Linked DNA regions of Homo sapiens: all the other regions are reported to be linked to region 3. The links are microRNA targets in miRTarBase. Many come from high-throughput screens and were not tested one by one. Region 3 holds a microRNA gene; each other region holds the end of a gene's coding sequence.
What was found. Region 3 holds the annotated microRNA hsa-miR-621 (GGCUAGCAACAGCGCUUACCU, at 2,958-2,978, shown strand). A microRNA usually pairs through its seed, bases 2 to 8, with sites in the 3' UTR of a target mRNA and lowers its output. Matches are read on the target gene's strand: a 7mer-m8 pairs with bases 2 to 8, a 7mer-A1 pairs with bases 2 to 7 and ends in A, and an 8mer does both.

Region 1 (7,123 bases), not on the chromosome of region 3:
ATCCTACCCTAAAAAGTTCATAATGTGTATTAACCTTTAAGGCTCTGAGAAGTTCTCTTGGAAATAATGCAATTTCTCTTTGTTTAACATGGTATTTCTTAAACTTATTTGACCACAGAATCCATTTTCCATTTCACTATCTTGAGGATCTATGACTATCTTGAGGATCTAGTATTCCGAGAAACATTTTGAGAAACATTGACTTACAGGACCTCTAAATACTAATTTGCAAAACACATTTTAAATTCATTTTAGTTTCTGAAACTTTAAACTTCAAAACAATTTGGAGGATTGGGGAAAGCAATACTTTGAAATTCAATGAACACATCAACAAAACCAGGGTGAAGCAGGTGGTGTCTCCTGCAAGGTGGAGAATCTCCATCTTGGGATGAAAGTCCAGTAAATATGTGTCTCCAAGTCAGGGAAGAGAAAGCAGTCAGCAAACATTCTCCCACTTGGCCCAAGACCAAGGAGGACCTCTAGGAGGCAATCTCTCCAGCAATGGCAAAGCGGATCCCAGAAAGCCCCCTTCTCCCATCTCCATATAGAAAGATAAGCCTGTGAGAAGCACAGGTGGCCCCTGGGGGAAGACTCTACTGATAGAAAATGTTGTTTACAAGATGCTGCTGAGCATTATGAACACTCTAAGTTATAAATAGTAATTCTGGTGATTTTCACCCTGTTTGTGTTCTACATGAGCTCTCTGGACAGAAGAGACCTTCCAGAAAGCTGTTTATAAATACAACTGCTTGAAGGAGGAGCCACTCAGGCTCTGTCTCCATGCTTAGCAGGCTGGCCAGAGGTGAAAACAGGTGCATTTTATAAAACCAACAGGCCCAGGAAGAGCAGCCTTCATGCTAAATGTCACTGCTTTCCAGGAAAAAACAGCGTATGTAGCCAGTGTACCAGCCTCTGCAAAGAAAACCCCTTTTTATGGCCATATCAATTTTCTCTCGCGCTCATCGACACTAAAAAGATCCCAACATTCTCTCCCTGAATGACAGTTCAGACTTTCGGCTTTTTTTAAAAGGTAAGAATAAAGATCCCTGAAGATGCAGAATTCTTCAGGCTAGCATACTATAACCGAAGACTATAGTCATAGGTACAAATAGCAGAATATATTCTCCAGGTAATTCATAACAGATTCATATTTATCAGATGTTACATTCCCTAAAACAGAAATATCTACATCAATAAAAAACACGATACAGTCTATATTACCTGTATTTGGTTAGAATTAGTCCTATCCCCAACATAAATTTTAAAGACATACTAGAATCACAGCATTCAAACATCAGTCAAACAAGCATCAAAGATTTACTCCTTTTGGGAAGTAGCCTACACGTAAATTCCAAATGGCTTCCAATACTGCAGCCTGCTGATGCCACACTAGTACACCACTATTTCTTTCTAGCTCTGTATCATAACATAGACTTCACCAGGTCCATTTCACAGACAAAATGTTAGGGTTCAAGTTTATTTAGTTTTTATTTTTTTTATTTTTTGAGACGGAGTCTTGCTCTGTCACCCAGGCTGCAGTGCAGTGGCGCAGTCTCAGCTCACTGCAAGCTCCGCCTCCTGGGTTCACGCCATTCTCCTGCCTCAGCCTCTCCGAGTAGCTGGGACTACAGGCGCCCGCCACCACGCCCGGCTAATTTTTTTGTATTTTTAGTAGAGACGGGGTTTCACCGTCTCGATCTCCTGACCTCATGATCCACCCGTCTCGGCCTCCCAAAGTGCTGGGATTACAAGCGTGAGCCACTGCGCCCGGTCTTCAAGTTTAAAATTATACATACTATGCACCTTTAAAACTTGATGAGGCTGTCTTCTTTTGACAAATGAGAAACCTAATATTCTACAAGATTGAGTGATGTGGCAGAGACAAGAAGTGAACCACCCCTCCCCTCTCCATCTGGGCTTTTGCTGGTGGATGCTTCCCAGTCTTTATGTAAAGTACTTTAAACTAAATATTGGGCTGCTCCCTAATGGTGTCTCCAAATGTCAAAAGATGAAGATGAATGAAAGTTTGTGAATGCAGGCATCTTTGATATCAAATTAAGGTGAGACTGAAGCTGGTTTCCCTCAGAGAGGACACATGTCGAACTCAAGAAGGCTTACCGGAAGCTCGAGCTTGCAGCACCACACCAGCTCATGACCATCTCTGCCACCAACTGTAAGCACATGCACCAAGCTTTATGAACACCTGAGAGAACACAGTGCCCTTCACGACCCAGCAGCCAGCCCTCCAAAAAAGTATGGCTATTTTTTCTTTTCCAGATAGACCTAAGGGTCAAAGAATTCTACACGTGGTCTAAAATGAATGACGTGTGAAACACCCAGCCCGCCAGAGAAGCATCTTGCTGCAGCTCCCCAGCAAGACTGCCTGTCAACTGAGCAGACCGCTCCATTAACACAAGGCGGCTCAGATTCAGCATCACATGACCTTCTTCTGTGAGCAAGCCAGGAATTCAGTCTGGAGAAACACTAAGAAGTTAAACCAAGAAAGTTATTAGAGAGCAACTCTTGGGAAGCTGGGACAGTTAATTTGAGAGAAGCAGGGTGTCAGAGTCTGACCTCAGCCTCGTTCTGTGAATTTAGGAGAGTCTTCAATGAAGTGACAGTCACAGTTAAGTTTTAAAGTAAAAAATACACTTCAGGTTGCATGTGCTCCTGGCTGCTGAAAGAACAATGGATTCTAAGCAAAAATGGAAATCCTAAACCAGAAACTAGATCCCCTCACAGCCCCCACTGTCCTTTGGATGGTTCTTTAAATGCTCTGTGGTCATACTGAGCTAGTCTACTTTCAGGAAAATTTGGTGACTTTTCATTTTTAGCTGAAGAAGTTATCTTCTCAAAACAACCTCCCCCAAAATATTCTGAGGCGAAGATGACCCTAAAGCTTCATTAGGATATAACAATGAAATGCATTATCCTCAATGCAGTCATTTATTATCATCACCAAAATCAGAGTTCACCAGATAAACTTTAAAAATCTAAGTATTTAGATCTCCCTTAATTTTCTGTACAATCCTTTAGAATTACACATATACGAGAAAGATCTGCTGTTCAACCAAAAGGGAAACCAACACTTGAAAAATCAGACAAAAACTGATACTACATTGTCTTCTGAACACATATTTTCCAACGAACTAGAAAGTGGCCTCCTTACAATTACACTCAAATTAAAACTTACTTGTGTCTTTAAAAGCCTATTTTTAAAGGAAGACAAACCATTTATTCTTTTAAAAGCCAAACATCTACATTTCTAAAGACAAATCTTCCATATTCTTCTCCTTAAAGGAAGACAAACTAGTCTTCTAAAGGCCAAATATCTACATTTCTGAAGTCAAATCTCCACTAGCCCAAGTTCTGGTATGGAACTGAGCTGGCTGGCATGGAAGTACTACCACCCTACTTAGCTTCCATTACAGTCTTTTCACCATCTCAAGGGCTATTAAATGACTGAAATCAGATATCTGAGTTCCATTAGGGGTCTCTTAGGCCTGAGAAAGTTGAGAGGCTTTAGCATCACAACACTCTTAACATTCCCCTTTCTGCAACCACCCGTGAGCTGGAGTGAGCTCACCATAGGAGACCCTTGTTAAGTCCTTCATCATGGCAGAGGGTTAAACAAGGCTCAAGTTTTTACAGCTTTGAATTCCCTTGCTTTTTACACCACTTAAAGAAGCCTGTAAGTAGCTTGCTGAGACTAAAACAAAACAAAGCAAAAGGGCTGGGGCACGGAACAGAACCTGTTAACATCGAGGTGGCTAGGGGTGCAAACCTGTTGGTAGAAGATCCCAGTGTTCATCTTACTTCTTGAGGAGGAGAGTTTTTAGGGAAAGCTTGTCTATCATCTGCTACTTTGACTCCAGTTCAGGGCACTTCCCTCCCCTCCCCGCTTTTTTTCTAACCAGCTAGAGAGAATAAGGAAGAACTACTATGGGGGTTCAAGCCATTTAAGAAATGAATCTAGGCCGGGCACGGTGGCTCACGCCTGTAATCCCAGCACTTTGGGAGGCTGAGGCGGGCGGATCACAAGGTCAGGAGATCGAGACCATCCTGGTGAACACAGTGAAACCCCATCTCTACTAAAAATTAAAAAAAAAAAAAAATTAGCCAGGCGTGGTGGCGGGCGCCTGTAGTCCCAGCTACTCAGGAGGCTGAGGCAGGAGAATGGCGTGAACCTGGAAGGTGGAGCTTGCAGTGAGCCGAGATCGCGCCACTGTACTCCAGCCTGGGAGACAGAGCAAGACTCCATCTCAAAAAAAAAGAAAAAGAAAAAGAAAAAAAAAGAAATCAACCTAGCTCTGTAACCTTGGGCAAACTACTTAACCTCTCTGGGCTACCTGCTTGCCCATTTGTCAGTATACCTAGTTGCATGGTACATATTTCAGCCTACTGCAGTTTCACATGCTTTAGTGCATTTGATTCTTGTAATAACCCTGTGAAGTAATGGGGGCTATTATCCTCATTTTATAAAACTGGAAGTTGAGACTCAGAGACCTAAGACACAACCATAGTGGTAGCAAGAAAGTGGTAGAAGTGGGCCTGAACCTCAATTCCTGATTTCAATCAAATGCTTTTTCTTACATCACACTGCCTGATCTTTGTGGTTCTGAGAACATTAAAATGCCACAATTGAAAAAATCTCCATCACCATTCACAACCTGTGTCACTCTATGTTTGGAAACTGCTGATATCATTTATAGTTTGGTGAACAAGCAGAAGCACACGAGTAAGTACTCCCTCATACAAACACCTGTGTTTTCAAATTAATTTTTTGGCTTTTTTTTTTTTTTTTTCTAAGAGATAGGTTCTTGCTTTACCACCCAGGATGGAGTGCAGTGGCACGATCATGACTCACTGCAGCCTCAAACTCCTGGGCACAAGGGATTCTCCTGAGAAGCAGGGGCTACAGGTATGTGTCACCACACCCAGCTAATTTTTTAAGTTTTCTGTAGAGACAGAGTCTTGCTATGTTGCCCATGCTGGTCTCTGACTCCTAGCCTCAAGCAATTCCTGCTTCAGTCTCCCATAGTTGTGGGATTATAGGCGTGAGACACTGTGCCTGGCCTCTTACTTTTTTAAAGGTTTAGCTCTTGAGTGCTAGCTAATAAAGATGCTTAGTACTAAGATAAAGAATAATTAACAGATTTTGCTTCTGTTAGAAATATTCATATATGAAAGAGTCTAGAATACATATTCTGCAGGCAAATTAGAAGTACCTGCCGATCATTACTTTACAAGGAAAAAAAGATGAAGAACATGTAACACTGAAGATTGACAAAAGCGGTGACGGACCAGAGAGTCTTTCTAGGAAAGCCCTTTGGCTGGGATCCTTAACCCTGAAGTACGACCCAAGCTTCCCATCCCTCTCCTTCTCTTCTCATCCATCCATCAAGTAGGGCAACCTGCGTCACAGGCCAGTGAGGACAACTGGATGCAAAAAAAGAATGCGATCTCTGAATGCGTACGTGTTCTCTTCACGAGCAGTAGATTTCTGAACTATCAGCAAACTGTGCGGGGGAAGGGGGGCACCTGACAGCCCTATTTGGTTTGCAGGTAAAACCCTGAGATGGAACTGGCTGGGAGCCATATTATGTGCACCACTGCTCCATGGTTTTCAGTGTGGAATAAAGTTCAAAGTAAAGAGAAGACAGGCTCCCCCAGAGATCCCCCCTCATCCCCATATTGTTATTTTTATGCCATAGCATTCGGCACTGACCTGCTTTGCCCACTTCCCCTTCCTCAGTGATCCTTCAGCCTGGCACCCAGCTCTGAGATGAGGCCTGCTTAGCACCAGTGAAGTTCCCCACGTTCAAACCAACAACATTCTGTGTGGAGATGAGGGAATCAAAGTTAAAATCCAACCCATCAGCATCCATGAGTTCACTACGGATAATGGACTCCATGTCACATTCCAAGCTCCCATTGAACATGTCCAGGTCCAAGTCGCTGGGGAACTTCTCATGGCCCATGACGGGCAGGTTTGCACTAGTTGAGTACAAGGAGGAGCCTGAGAGAGAGTCCGAGAGGGTTTGCATAGACTGGCTGACAGGAGACTGCTGCTGGTGTTTGGCTGACCCAAGGCTGCTGGACTCACTCAAGCCCATGTTGCTGACAGAATTCGACAAGGCACGGCTGCCACCAAGAGCGCCCTGGGTTTGGTGCTGGTGGTGGAGCAAGTTCTGATTGACCAAACTTCCCTGGTTAGGCTGGGCAGCAAAGGACATCATCGGATCATTGCGAAGCATCACGTTCCGGCGGGAATTCTGGGCAGACACAGCGGTGCTGGCCTGAGACATCAAGGGGTCCGACTGTGTCATCATGACATCGCTGTGGCTAAGTGAGTCCGAAGTGAGCAGGTCCTGGAGTGTCTGGTTACCATAGTGTGACATGGAAGAGAAGGTAGCTGGCTTGTTCTCTTGGATGGTCTGCATGGGAGACTGGCGTAGGGAGTTCAGAGATGAAGGTCCGAACACCGTGCTGTTAAAGGAGCTGGTTGGGGAGCCCAGGCCCGAGCCCTTGGTGGTATACGGGAAGCTAGAGCTCCGCTGCATGAGTCCCCCAGTGGGCGATGGCTGGGATGGCGGGAGCGTGATGTTATCCAGCAGGTCGTCCATGAGGTTTTCAGTCAGCCCATCATTCAGATTCATGGTGCCTGCCATATCAGTCAGCCGTGGCAGTTCCACCGTGCACGGCTTGCTTACTGAAGGTGACAGGCTGGCTGAGCTGCTGTAGAGCATGGGCGAGAGAGGCGCATCATCGTCCTGGACTTCATCCAACTCTGTGCTTGCCATGATGGGCGACAGGCGGCCACTGACTGTGCTGGCGTTAGAATTGGTGCGTGAACGGAAGTCCGTCCACGCATCCAGCTCATCACTGCTGCGTGACGTGGGGCTGCCAGGCCACTTGGAGAGCTGGGAGGGACTGTCGTCAGCTGATTCGGGGGCTGTCTGCAGGGCTGCCTTCTTCTTGGCTGCGCGGCCACGGCTCTTGGTATACTTGTTGCTATTGTCCATGGAGACAGCCCGCCGCCGGGGGGCTTTTCCGCTCTTCCCCCCATCAGGGTTGATGATCCACCAAGAGCTCTTGCCAGTTCCCTCATTCTGGACCCGCA
Region 2 (7,123 bases), not on the chromosome of region 3:
AAGACCTAGCCTGTTTTGACACAAGGCCTTAAGCCTGTCCCTGGATTAAAGTCAGATTAACAAAGTCCTTGACTCTCACCAGCCCCCACTGGAGCTTTGGTATCGTGTCATAGACCTCTCTAATGATGACTTTCTTGCCCTCATTTCTGTAAGAAAAATCAAGTTTTAGAATTGAGCGTAATGGGATTTCTCAACAACTGAATTTACTTTTGTCTTGTAACAGTTCGTATGACTCTTTTAAAAAATCAGACAAGTTTTGTGGTCCATCTCTAGCAACTTCATAGCCAACTTACCTCATCTATGGCTGTGTCTTACTTTCGTGTTCCTATTTAGCCAGTCCTCAAGAATAAACCATTCATGACACCCCTTAGCATAGTGTTGTTGACTTTCTTTTTTTATTGTTAGTGCCCTTCTCGTGAAATATTAATGTCTTGTCCCTGTTGAGAATGTATGCCATAGCACAACTGGGACAGGCAGGAATTTTCAAAATGTACATAATACTACAAGCAAATAGCAACAAAAATTCATGTACATAAAAATAGTTGTTTTTAAAGAACAGGTTTAAGCCTGTTGTGTATAGTCTTACCTAGTTCTTGGGTTCTGTCTTTTCCATTTCCTAGTCAAGTTCCTAGTCATATATGCCTTCTGAGAGAGACACTGACTTGTCAGTTGGGTTGGGGTGGTAATCAGTGATGATCTCTGAGTCCTGTGTGGCAACCTTTCCACTTGCTGGACTACTCAGCATACTAGCCGTCTATCTAGGCCTTACCCAAACTCTATGCCCACGGGCAGAGTGATTTCCTCACAAACAATAAAAATAACTGGCTTCTCTGCAGGAATCCAGAGTTTCTGTAAGGACTTGGTGGAGGTGGCTGACATTTTGGAGAAGACTACAGAGTGCATTTCTGAAGAATCGGAGCCTGAGGACCAAAAGCTCACTCTGGAGAAGGTCTTCCGAGGGTTGTTGCTTTTAGAAGCAAAGCTGAAAAGTGTGTTTGCCAAGCATGGCCTGGAGAAACTGACACCCATTGGTGACAAATATGACCCCCATGAGCATGAACTCATCTGTCATGTGCCAGCTGGTGTTGGGGTGCAGCCTGGCACCGTGGCATTAGTAAGACAAGATGGCTACAAACTTCATGGCCGCACCATTAGGCTTGCCCGAGTGGAAGTGGCAGTGGAGTCTCAGAGAAGACTGTGAAGAGGCCATCAGGAACTGGATGTTCTCCCAGAGCGCAGTCACCTATGTTTCTTTTATTTATTAAACTAGGTTTGTATTGTACATGAGGTACTTCATGTGATATGTTTTGGATTTAGTCATATTGGCTTTATTTCTAAGATATTCTATTGATTTAATGTGACCTGTTTGGTCTCATCAGAAGTCTTACCATTGGGCATTTGAACAGTGTGACAGGTGTTCCAATGGCCTTTATCAAAACATGTTTAGGAAAATTGGTACTGTGATAAATTTGAATCCAAAATCCTTTTAACTATGGGTTTTCAACTACATGTTTCTTCCTAGCGGTCTCTATAACAGGAATTGTGTAGTATCTTGTATTTTGTGGAAAAAGGAGATGGTAGGGATTGGTTCAACATTTGGGTACTTAGAGGATAAAGCTTCGTGGTCGTATAAATTTAGATCATTTGGATTGATTTTTATACACATAGATTTTCAGGACTTTACCTTTTGTTTTGTTTTTTTCCTTTTAGCCATCTTTTGTTCTTGTAATCCCAACTAGATAGGCTTTATGCTCACATCATTGTCCCATACCCACCCCTTTCTCATCCCCATTTGCAGGGGCTAAAGGTCTAGATGAGACTTGGAAGGCAAGGAGCATCGAAATTTGAGATACCCAGGACCCTTTCAAGCAAGAATGGCCAAAAAGCCTTGTGCTGTCTTTGCTCTTCAAATTATTTTCAGCCTCCTTGTCATATAATCATTTCAGGCAAACTGAGGCAACACTAACAGCTAATGACCCAGATGGCTCTATTTGGGTAATTTACCTACAACTTATTCCACCAGCCTTTACTCCTCTGCCCTTTTGTCAATTTTACCTTATAATCCTTTATTAAATGATGGGAGGTGGTGATCAGGACAAAAGTGTTAGGTTCCCATGATTTCTCATTTCATTTATTAATAGTTAATGCTGAATTTTTTTTTAAGTTTCCTCTGGCTCTATTTATGTTACTTTTTGCGATAAGAACACTTAACATAAGTATTCTCTCCTCTTGGCAATTTTTTTTTTTTTTCCTGTGTTGCCCAGGCTGACCTCCAACTCCTGGGCCCAAGCAATCCTGCCTCAGCCTGCCAAGTAGCTAGGACTACAGGCGTTCACCACTGCGCCCGCAAAGTTTTTTTGTTGTTTTTTTTTTTAAGTTGGTACTCACAAATCACTACCTCTGTTATATTGACAAGCTCTATTTCCTATTCTTTGTATCTGTTAAGTCACATCTGTGTAAACATTGAGCTCACCTTTTATATATTAACCTCTAGAATTAATGGGCCTATGTGGTTTTTTTTCAGTCTTATAGCTGGTGTTCTGTAAAAGATTTGTCCAATAAACGACTTAATGAATGATACATCAGTCAGATTTTAGGAAGGCAGTCAATTATGGATATTTTAATGTTGGAAGAGGCCTTAATGATCAAATCTCACCCTTTCTGCTTCTGAAGTATGAAAATCTAGTCTTTTTAGGACTGGACACAAGGAAAATAATCTCTAAACTATTGACTAAATTCCAGTGAGAGTATGAATGAAGAACAACTAGATATTAATGTCAATCATTTAAGATTAATGGGCATGCAATTAAGTCTCCATTTAAGATTAATGGGCATGCAATGAAGTCTCCAGCAGACAATCAGATGTTGTTGGATGTCTAGATTATATAGGTTTAGGTTGAAGTTATAAAATAAAATAAAATTCATTTTCCACTGGAACTCTATGACATTCAGTGGAGTGGTGGAAAGTTAACCTCTTATACATTATAGATAATTCTAAGACAGCACACAAACTTATCAATAAAGCCATCTCCTTGTGGGCCTTACCATCTTCATCAGATTTAGACCCTTAAAAAACAAGTAAATATGCACTTTTAAAATGCAATCAAAAGACTGGTGGTTAAGCTTGTAAAACCAGAACATCTTTTGGCATTCCACTAAGTATATATTGTAAATTTAATGAACAATCAAGGTTCACAATAGGAAGTTGTCTTTTTTTGCCTTCCATTCTGTGAGATTTGACAGATGGTGACAATAAGAAAATGAGCTGATTGTAATTACTCTCTGTGTGTTTTTTTATTGCTAGCTATCATTACCAGTTAGAATTAACATTAATTACAATTAACAATAATTTTAGGTATGGAATGTTATGATTACCTAAAGAGATGTCTCTACCTAATGAGCTCAAGTGATCCTCCCACCTCAGCCTACCAAGTAGCCAGGACCACAGGCAAGTGCACCACCATGACTGGCTAGTTTTGTTTTTTGGTTTTTGGTTTTTGGTTTTTGGTTTTTTTTTTTTGGTTGGTTGGTTGTTTTTTACAGGCGGGGTCTCACTATATTGTCCAGGCTAGAAGAATTTTCTAATGGTCTATTACACCTCCCGTTTTGGCAAGTAAATTCAGAATAATTTTAGGTTCTTTTGTTATTCAGTAGTTTTGCAGACTTAAAAGTGTAAATTTAGAATTAGAAGATGAAGCTATAGTAGTAAGAATCTCAAGCTGAAGGGCTTTGGGGAGCCAAAGCAGCATATTAGAGCATAGGCTTGAACTTAAATCTCAGCTCAGTCACCTGCAGGACTTTAGGCACCAGTGATTTCACCCTTCTGAGCCTGTTTCTTTATTCGTAAAATGATTATAATAATTCTTTCACAGCGTTGTGAGGATTAAGTGAAATGTGTTAAATGCCTACTACAGTAGGTGCTCAGATATTTATTTTTATTTTTTTATTATGCACATTGTTTTTCCTGCCTTTTTATGGCTGTCTAAAGTCTAGGGAAAAGGGAAGACTGGTTAATGATGAGTAGAAAAAACTTGTAAGCTAATCATTCACTGACTTATTTTCCTTCCATTTTCTGGTTTTTAAAATTAGCCACACCACAGGAAACCCACATTTTTAGATGGAAAGAGCAAGAAAATTGTGTCAGTGCTCTTAGTTATTTTCATCTTAATGGTATAGTGAAAAGACATTGACTTGAGATGATACTAAGGAAGCTTTGGCTCACTCTCACTTGAAGAGGGGATCTTGGTGTTGTAGTACTTGGACTGTACAAATGTTTTACTGACTTTTCTTACTGCTGTAAAGGAATCAGGCAGTTGGGTATTGATATGTTATTTGGTGCTCTCATTCATGGCAAAGGATTTGATAAATAAAAGTTCTTTAAACACTAAAGCAAAATCAAATGAGCAAAACTAAGGATGAAATGTAATATTCATCAGAACAAGGATCACTGAGAAAAAATATTCAGAAACAACTTTAATAAAACCTGAATTGAAATAACTGCAGCTCTGGTGTTTAGAGTCTTTGTCTGCCTATTCGTATTGTATATGGAACATTATGGTCACTTCATGACTGCTGACCTGCCTTGTTGATGCTCTGGAGAGGTACCTTGAGATCTCATAGCAGCATAGCCAAGTGGATGCACTGTGGGCTTTCCCCACCCTGCCTCCGTGTTGAAGTCTTGTCTGTTTTATTCCTCCTTGACTTGCCTCTTTCTGATTGCTACATATTTCTTAGATCTGGATTCCTATTTCTGCCTTTTTTTTTTTTTTTTTTTTTTGAGATGGAGTTTTGCTCTTGTTGCCCAGGCTAGAGTGCAATGGCGCGATCTCAGCTCAGCGCAACCTCCGCCTCCCAGGTTCAAGCAATTCTCCTGCCTCAGCCTCCCGAGTAGCTGGGATTACAGGCACCTGCCACCACGCCTAATTTTTTGTATTTTGAGTAGAGACAGTTTCACCACGTTGGCCAGGCTGGTCTTGAACTCCTGACTTCAGGCGATCCACCTGCCTCGGCTTCCCAAAGTGCTGGGCTCACAGGCCTGAGCCACTGTTCCCAGCCCTATTTCTGCCTTCTTTTCTGGCATTGACTTGTTTTCTTGGGTTCGCCTTTTGGTTCTAGGTGTCTTATTTCCTTTGACTACTGCTGACTATTCTCCTAACCAGATTACAGACACTTGGCCTTGTTCTGACCTTCAGCTTCCCCATGTCCTTCCCACCTTGTGACTGCCTGGCCTTGTCTTTACCTCTGCTTCTCAGCTAGCTTCCATATACCTAGACTCCTGGCTGAATGGCCCTCTGTTGGGCCAGCCTTCCCTGGGATTTGGTCTTGCGTTTTCATTATCTTTCCAATACTGTCTGTACACTGTAGCTCCATAAACCATGTGTCCCATATTCCCAGTGCTAGTCAGTGAGTATATTCTTATTCCTATCCACTCAGATGTCCATGCTCTCAAGTTCACTGTAGTTTTAAAACATGGCTCCAGAATTTCTTGACACCTTTGTTGAGTAGGGCCCATGTCCATTCTTGAGTTTCCTTGGAGCTTTGTGATTGCTTGACCAATAGAATACAGTGGAAGTGACACTGCCATTTTCTGGACCCAGATCTTAAGAAACTGGTATCCCCACTTCCTGTCTTGGGATGCTCACCCCTGGAACCTTACCATCGTGCCAAGAGCAAACTGAAGTAGCCTGTGGAATGGAACTGAGGGCCCTGGTTGAGCTTTCAGCTGAGCCAGCACTGTCTTGCCAGCCAGTGAGCCATCTTGAAGGTGGATCCTCCCACACCCAGTGGAGCAGCCCCAAATGATACCACATGGAACAGATGAGCTGATCTCACTGAGTCCTGCCTGAGGTGTAGTGTGAGCAAAACAGATGACTGTTACTTTAAGCCACTACATTTTTTAATGGTTTGTTACACAACAGCAGATAAAATGATACAGTCACCCCACTGCATTCCCAGTCTGGCACCTTTGTGCCACAAGAATTGTGCCTACTTGCTTTTCCCTTATCAGCTCTTTCGAACCTCTCTTACAATGTTGATGAGCGCACACATTGTCAATGGGCTAGTAGGGTTGGAAGGGCTTCCTAACAGAAAAAAACAGCTCTAGATTTAAGAGTTACAAAGGACCCTAAAATTACAAGCAAAGTATAGTCAAGAAGATGAATTTGAACACTAACATGATTTACCCTACAAAAAAATGACAAGAATCAGAATAAGTTCATAAGAGAATTTGGCACATAGTGGTCAATGAGTGCTTGTTTTAAAAACTGTTTAAGGGAGTATCTTGAACCTTTGGAAATGAACTTAAAAGGTGTTGCATCCTGACACAAACATTGCCAAAAAAAAAAGTTTAAGATTATGACAAATGCATGATTATTCATCTACCAGTTTACTAGTAGTAATCCAGTTTGGCCCAAGTAAATTAAGTCTCAGTGCTGAGTTAGAACCCCAGCTATAAGCTCTTTCACCATTCTCTGAATCACTTCAGTTTTTTGTTTTTGTTTTTGTTTGAGTCAGAGTCTCGCTCTGTCACCCACGGTGGAGTGCAGTGGTACAATCTCGGCTCACTGCAACATGTGCCTCCCAGGTTCAAGCGATTCTCCTGCCCCAGCCTCCCGAGTAGCTGGGATTACAGGCGCACACCACCAAGCCCAGCTAATTTTTGCATTTTAGCAGAGATGAGGTTTCACCATGATGGCCGAGCTGGTCTCGAACTCCTGACCTCAAGTGATCTGCCCACCTCGGCCTCCCAAACTGCTGGGATTACAGGCATGAGCCACTGTGCCCGGCCCAGTTTCTTATTTTAGCCATAATCTCACTGAGTAAATATGGATTTCATTTATTTTTATATATTTATTTATTTTTAAAGACAGGGACTCTTGTCACTCAGGCTGGAGTGCAGTGGCACAATCATAGAACACTGTAACCTCAAACTACCGGTCTCAAGCCTCCCACCTCTGCCTCCTGAATAGCTAGGACTACAGGTGTGCACCACCACTCCTGGCGAATTTTTTTTTTTTAAGAGACGGGGTCTCAGAGTCTCATTATGTTGCCCAGGCTGGTCTCAAACTGCTGGCCTAAGCGATCCTCCCGCCTGACCTTCCAAAATGCTGGGATTACAGGCTTG
Region 3 (7,123 bases):
ATCGTGTTTAGCTGGTTGGTACAACTACATGCAATGTTTGGCTCACATAAGTGAGTTTTTCTTACCATCTCCCTCAGTGTGTGTTGAATCTATTCTGTGGTTAGTCAAGCTCCCAGACTTAATTGCTATGTTTAATAAAAACAATTTTGGCTTTTAATGATAAATGAAGAATCAGGGCTATTAAAATACTTAAGAGTGAGAAAGTTGAAAAAAGACATAGATTGTGTTTGGCCTGTCTTCTCCCCACTGTAGGGGGTTGCCACTCAGCTGGAGGCCTGCTGGTTCGTGTGGGCCAGCCCTTGACACCTCAGTGACCAAGCGAAATATAACCCTCACTAAGGCTTCTTGTACTTGGCAAGACCCAGGAGTAGACCTGGGCTACCAAACAAAACCCTGTGTTCTTAGAGCTTGGGAACAAGAGCTTTGACAGTTTTCCTCAAAGAATTGTATTCTGTAGCATTAGCATTTTTATTTTCATCTACCTGCAGCCATTACTACATTGACCTCTGGAAATGTCACATCAGCTGTTCTTGAGACAAAATACCATTTGCTATTTTTTTTTTCTCTAGGCCCTGTACCTTTGATGTTAAGTGGTGGAGTTGGTGGGATTTGCCTCTGGCTTGCGGTATACCCAGTGGATTGTATCAAATCCAGAATTCAAGTTCTTTCCATGTCTGGAAAACAGGCAGGATTTATCAGAACCTTTATAAATGTTGTGAAAAATGAAGGTGAGTAAATACCTGTTTTTCAAGCATCTATATACATCTTAAAATCTGAGATACGGGCCGGGCGTGGTGGCTCATGCCTGTGATCCCAGCACTTTGGGAGGCTGAGGCAGGTGGATCATGAGGTCAGGAGATCGAGACCATCCTGGCTAACACGGTGAAACCCCGTCTCTACTAAAAATACCAAAAAAATCAGCCAGGCGTGGTGGCAGGCACCTGTAGTCCCAGCTACTCGGGAGGCTGAGACAGGAGAATGGCGTCAACCTGGGAGGCGGAGCTTGCAGTGAGCTGAGATTGCACCACTGCACTCCAGCCTGGGCAACAGCGAGACTCTGTCTCAAAAAAAAAAAAAAAAAAAAAATCTGAGATATGAACTCTGTTTTGATTGTAAAAAGAAAGAGGACAGTAACACAGAAACTTTGTGTCCCAAATAGAGGACAGATACCTTGTCTGTTACTCATAGTAATCCTCCCTTACATTTGTATAACATGTAAAGTTTTACAAAGTACTTACACCTCCCTTATCTAATTCAATCTTCATAACCACCCTGGGCAGTACTAATACTATACACAGGTCTCCAACTTCAAGGTTGGTGTTCCTGCCACTGCCCAGGTGAAGCTGCAAAGCTGCTGCCACCTCTATCTCCATGGTTGCCTCTGTCTGGCCATCTCAGGCCTCAGCTCTGCCCCATCCATATACTAAGAGTTAACCAAGCGTGGAATTGGGGTATGTTACCTGAGCATCAGTCAGTTTTGCCAGGAGACCTGATACTTGTCCTTGTTTCCATTAGTCTATTTAGGAAAAGCTGGGAATGCATCCTTCTATGACTTGTTGGTTTTTAGCACTGTTGTCTGGGTTTGCATGTGTAAATATACCTATGCTATGCAGCTGCGTGGGTATCCCCAAAGGAGGGATTGTTGCAGTCTTTGACCGCCCTTTTATTTGCTAGGAATAACGGCCTTATATTCTGGACTGAAACCTACTATGATTCGAGCATTCCCTGCCAATGGAGCACTCTTTTTGGCCTACGAATATAGCAGGAAGTTGATGATGAACCAGTTGGAAGCATACTGAAGTGTCTTGGTGGGCCTGAGCCAAGCACAGGTGTTTGAGGACTACAGTTCATCTCAGGGTTTCTTGGAGTACAAGACCAGTGTGAAGTTATTCTGATTTCTTGGGAATTTTGCTTTTTGTCTTCCCTTCTACCCTACATCTTAAACTTTATGGAAGAACCTCTATTTTGCATCATATCATTTCTGTCCATAATTGTACTGAAATAGAAAAGTGACCGCTCTTGCTCTTGGTAAAATATAGAGTGGTCAGTAGCCTTATGCACCTAATTCAAAAGGTGGAATATAGTTCTGTCAGGGCTTTTACGTAAACCTCCACTTGTACATGCAATTTGGACAGTTATGTGTTGAGGGAAATACAGTTTGGTACCTTGTTTATTTCAAATATCAGAAAAACCCAGAGGTGATCATTTCTCATGAAGATGCTTATAAATGGTTGCTTAACCCATTCTAGATGTAGGGTCTGCTTAATGTGTGTACTTTTCTAAGTGGTTGATTATTTTTTATTTTTTTGATACAGAGTCTCACTCTGTCACCCAGACTGGAGTGCAGTGGCACGATCTCGGCTCACTGCAACCTCCGCCTCCTGGGTTCAAGCGATTCTCTCACCTCAGCCTCCTGAGTAGCTGGGATTACAGGTACGCGCCACCATGTCCAGCTAATTTTTTTTGGTATTTTTTGTAGAGACGAGGTTTCACCATGTTGTCCAGGTTGGTCTCGAACTCCTGACCTCAAGTGATCCGCCCACCTCGGCCTCCCAAAGTGCTGGGATTACTGGTGTGAGCCACCATGCCCAGCCAGTGGTTGAATTTTTTAAAAAGTGTTCATGGGGTGCTTGAAAACTAAAATATCCTTCTAGATTTGTAAGACAGTATACCTGCATACTGGTGTGGCTTCCACACTTGAGTAAAAGCTTCAGAGTAGGTATCCTAGATTTCCCCAAGATGCTCTACTCTTAAAATAGTGCCATTCATTTTCTAGGTGGGATCATATTCCACGCTGACTATATTGCTAGGGGTGGCCCAGAGGGTCAGGCCTTTGGGAAATAGCATGGCCTTTACCAGCTTCCCTTCTCTCCCAAAGAACTTCCCTTCTTGGGCTTTAGATTGAGGAAGGGGCTGAGTGGTAGGCGGTGCTGCTGTGCTCTGATGAAGACCCATGTGGCTAGCAACAGCGCTTACCTTTTGTCTCTGGGTCCTGGCCTGGGGCCATCAATCCACTTTGGGCCACTCACTGTCTGCTCTGCCTCCACCAATCAGAAACCCTTCCAAGGAACAGTGAGAGCCAAAGCCAAGAGAAGCCTTCTTCCCTGTTTGGTGATTGTGTGACAGTGGGTGAACCTCTCTCAGAGAGAACTAGAAAGAACTCAGTGCTTGTACTCCACAGTGAGTAATGTCAGGTCTGACCCATCCTGAAGCCTGTCTTGCCATGCTTTTACAGTGTTGGAGGCTTCTACATTTGGTACTTGCAGTCAGTAAGTCTTAATGATGACTGTATATGTGATATGAGTTTATAAAGCAATGGAACATAAGAAAAGCAATTGTAGGCCAGGCGCAGTGGCTCACGCCTATAATCCCAGCACTTTGGGAGGCTGAGGCGGGCGGGTCACAAGGTCAGGAGTTCGAGAACAGCCTGACCAACATGGTGAAACCCCATCTCTACTAAAAATACAAAAATTAGCTGGGCGTGGTGGCACGTGCCTGTAATCCCAGCTACTCAGGAGGCTGAGGCAGGAGAATCGCTTGAACCCGGGAGGCAGAGGTTGCAGTGAACTGAGATTGTGCCACTGCACTCCAGACTGGGTGACACAGCGAGACTTCATCTCAAAAAAAAAAAGAAAAGAAAAGCAATTGTACTTCACTATGCCATATGTATGTATTCACTGACCAAAAATTCACTGACCAACCAACCAAACTCCACACTTCATCTGATCCCCCATAGACTTGGGGATGGACAGCTGTTCTTTGGCCATATGGTATAAGAGGATCATTCTTGTCACTACTTAAGTTAGCCTCATCATTTTGTGCTGCTCCAACACCAGCAGGGTATCTCCCAATAAAGTGTTCCTAAGCAGCCTGTATACTGAGTGCAAGCAGGCTATCAATTTTAATAATAGTCCATACCATGTATGTGTTTCTGTCAGCAGAATGTACATGTTGTACAAAACCTCCAGGTTCCTTAAGCTTTTTGCTGTCCATGAATCCTCTGTGGCAACTGTAATCACAGAGCCAGAAGCCAGAGGGCCAGGGATATGAGAGGCTGACAAACATCAGGGGACATCTGGGGAGGAGATCCCTGTCATGTCTCTTGTGCCATGGAGCTATTATGGCTGGTCTTCCATTTGCTTTTTCTTTAAGTGAAAACCATTTTTCTACTTTGCTTTTCTCTCCATACTTAAATGGTCAGTAGCTACTGAGTGGTGCTTTATCTGAATAGGCCTGGATCGAAGTAAAATAGAAATGGGACTGGCTTTCCACAGGAAGTAAACTGCTTCAGAGCCCACAGTCCCCTGCTCAGTGTCCGGAAAGAAGTCAGTCATCCCTGTTGGCAGTAAATCTTCCCACAGGCCGTCCATTAGAGATTTAACTAGATATGTTCAATAGAAAGAGTCTGAGGCAAGTGGAAATGAGGAACGGAAACTTAGGTTGGGAGAATATTTTTTTTTTATTCATTCTGTTTGCTTAATTCAGAGTACAGTTTGTGCTATTTCATATCTGTACTCCAGGCAGAAATATAACTTGAAAATACTGTGTCTAAAGAAATTTCAGTGTTCTATCATTAAATTATTTACTTAATATTTGAGTCTGATGAATTTCATTGAAGTTCTTTACATCCATGTTGGGAAACAACTGTCAGGAATGTTAAAGAGTTATGTATAGTAGTGTTTCAAGGCAGTGGTTTTATTGCAACAAGCATTGTTTTCTGTCAGCAAGACACCTCATGTAAAATAATTTCACCATAGGTAAGGTGACAAAAATATTTCTATGCTCTGAAGTTATGGAACTTGGCTCACTAGAATTACTTTCTCCCTCCACCTCTTTCCCTCTATTTTAAAAAATAGTTAAACTGTCTGCTTTTAAGTTTTGGATGATTCCATTCCAAGTTACTAAATTCTACTTAAGAAAACAAGTATCTGAAGTGCCAAGATGGCTGACTAGAAGCAGCTAGTGTGCGCAGCCTTCACAAGAGGAGACAGAGTGGTGAGTGAACACAAGCTCTTCAGGTTGATCATCCAGCAGGCTGTGTTGGGATTCATCAGGGAAGCTGTGGTGAGTCATGGAGAGCATAGGGGAGTAAGGAAGGACAGCTGTCCACCTGGGATTGGTGCAGAGCAAGGGGAGGCTCCCTACAGCAGGGAAAGTGTGAGTGAGTGAAGGCTCCTGGGGACTCACACTTCTGCCATGGACCTTGGCAATCCCCAGGCACAGGAGATCCTCCATGACTCCACCTGCCCTCCCCCCCCCCCCCCCCCACCCACACACACACACACCCTGGGGTTCTAGACTGACACAGAGAGCTGCTTGGAGTCTGGGCAGAGCCACTGCTCAAGCCAATGTGGATCCCTGAGCTGCTATGGCCCCGGCTGCCATAGTCCGGCCAACAAGGTAGGCCAGGCTCTCTCGTGTGCCCCTAGGATAGGGGCCATATCCATGGTGCTGAGGAGCGGACAGATTGCAGGCCTCACTTCCACTGCACCTTGCCAGGCAAGGCCCACTGGCCTGGGCCTCCATCGCAGCCATGCTACCCACTACCTGAGCACTCCAGCTAGTCACAGCCCTCATTTCTCTGGGATGGAGCTCCCAGAAGTAACCAACAGGCCCTCTGCCCTGCCGTAGCCTGTGCCCCTGCTGCCCTCAGGCTGGAGAGGGAGCAAAAAGCCCAATAGCGGTCATGGGCCTCCAGCCTGCTATAGCTGACATATGGAAAGGCAGCCCAGACTGTTTTCCACGAGTCCCTGGCCCTGCTGCTCACTGGGCAGGGTGCCTCCTGGCTTGGGCCCCCAGCACAGCTCCTGCCTGATCAGTTGGTGGTGGCTCTGTGTTTCTCTGGGATGGAGGTCCCAGAAACAACTGACAGGCCTCTGCCATTGCTGCCACCACAGTACCTGCCCTTGCTTCCCCCAGGCTAGGGAGGGAACAAAGGGCCTGATTACTTTGTCAGCATTCTACAGAGAGGAGGCCAGACTGTCTTCCGGGTTGAGTTGCCTGACCTCCCTGCTCTTCAGGCAGGGCCCCCAGCTTGGGCCCAGCAGCACAGCTGCCCCAACCCTAAGCTGAGGAGGGAACAAAAAGCCTGAGCTTGCACTGGGGCTGCAGTGTGGCAGCTTGGAAGTGCCAAGGCGAGATCTGTAGCAGGCACTAGAGCAGGAGAGGAGCCCACACTCTCAGAGTACTGAGAGTGCTGAGTTACATGAACCTGTGGGCTACCACAGCAGTGGGCATGCCTCCCTATGCAGGGCCAGCTGTCTGGAAAAGGGATGGCCTATCTCCCTACCTCAGCCTCTGCCTGAGGGAGTGCACCTGACAAAAGAAACACGGGCACAGTGCCATTGGTTGGAAGGGGCTCCCCCAGGGCCCAGGAGCGGACCTGATGAGGTGGTCACCTCTCTTCCCACCGCACCACAGAGCACAGCCAGAAACACCAGGAAATCCAAAGGAGCAAAGTGGCTAAGATCTGTCTACCGACCATTACTCCTAAGCGCCATCTACTGGAATTCAGTAGATGTAGCAAACTACAAAAATAGTTTGCTAATATACCTTCCTGTAAAACCAAGGTAAGAATTCAACCACAAATGCACAGAGCCTTGGCCCTCAGAAAACATGAAGAAATTCAGCCAACTGACTGTACTCAACTTACACCACAGTTAAAAGAATACCAACCCTCAGATGAGAAAGAATCAGCACAAGAACTCTGGCAATTCAAAGAGCCAGAGTGTCCCCTTACCTCCAAATGAGTCCACTAGCTCCCTAGCAGTGGTTCTTAACCAGTTGGAAATGGCTGAAATGACAGATGTAGAATACAGGATCTGGATGCCAAGGAGGCTCATCAATATTCAGAAGAAAGCTGAAAACTAATCCAAGGATTCCAGTAAAGTGATCCAAGAGCTGAAAGATGAAATAGCCATTTTAAGAAAGAACCAAACTGAACTTCGATAGCTGAAAAATTCACTATAAGAATTTTATAATACAATTGGAAGTATTAACAGCAGAACAGACCAAGCTGAGGAAAGAATCTCAGCGCTCTTCTAAACAACTCAGACAAAAATAAAAAAAGAATTTAAAAAAATGAGCAAAACTTCTGAGAAATAGTGGATTATGTAAAGAGACC

Region 1: miRTarBase lists FOXO3 as a target of hsa-miR-621. The part of its 3' UTR that is shown has no 7-base or 8-base seed match.
Region 2: the mRNA of GRPEL2 is a reported target of hsa-miR-621. Seed matches in the 3' UTR shown: 7mer-m8 at 3,299-3,305.

Annotation. Positions count from the first base shown.
Region 1 is chr6:108,663,495-108,670,617 of GRCh38, reverse strand. FOXO3 (forkhead box O3) reads right to left here. Exons shown (of 3, transcript NM_001455.4): 2 at 5,729-7,123. The coding sequence ends at 5,763. Among named protein-coding and RNA genes, the nearest start is that of LINC00222, 85 kb to the left of the region's middle. RefSeq lists a silencer at 6,021-6,221.
Region 2 is chr5:149,350,082-149,357,204 of GRCh38, forward strand. It overlaps GRPEL2 (GrpE like 2, mitochondrial), which reads left to right. Exons shown (of 4, transcript NM_152407.4): 4 at 837-4,502. The coding sequence ends at 1,201. All of the region lies in intron 1 of GRPEL2-AS1 (GRPEL2 antisense RNA 1), which reads right to left. Among named protein-coding and RNA genes, the nearest start is that of GRPEL2-AS1, 4.0 kb to the right of the region's middle.
Region 3 is chr13:40,807,869-40,814,991 of GRCh38, forward strand. It overlaps MIR621 (microRNA 621), which reads left to right and starts at 2,898; the gene lies at 2,898-2,993. SLC25A15 (solute carrier family 25 member 15) reads left to right here. Exons shown (of 7, transcript NM_014252.4): 6 at 570-728; 7 at 1,675-4,592. The coding sequence ends at 1,799. It also overlaps the pseudogene TPTE2P5.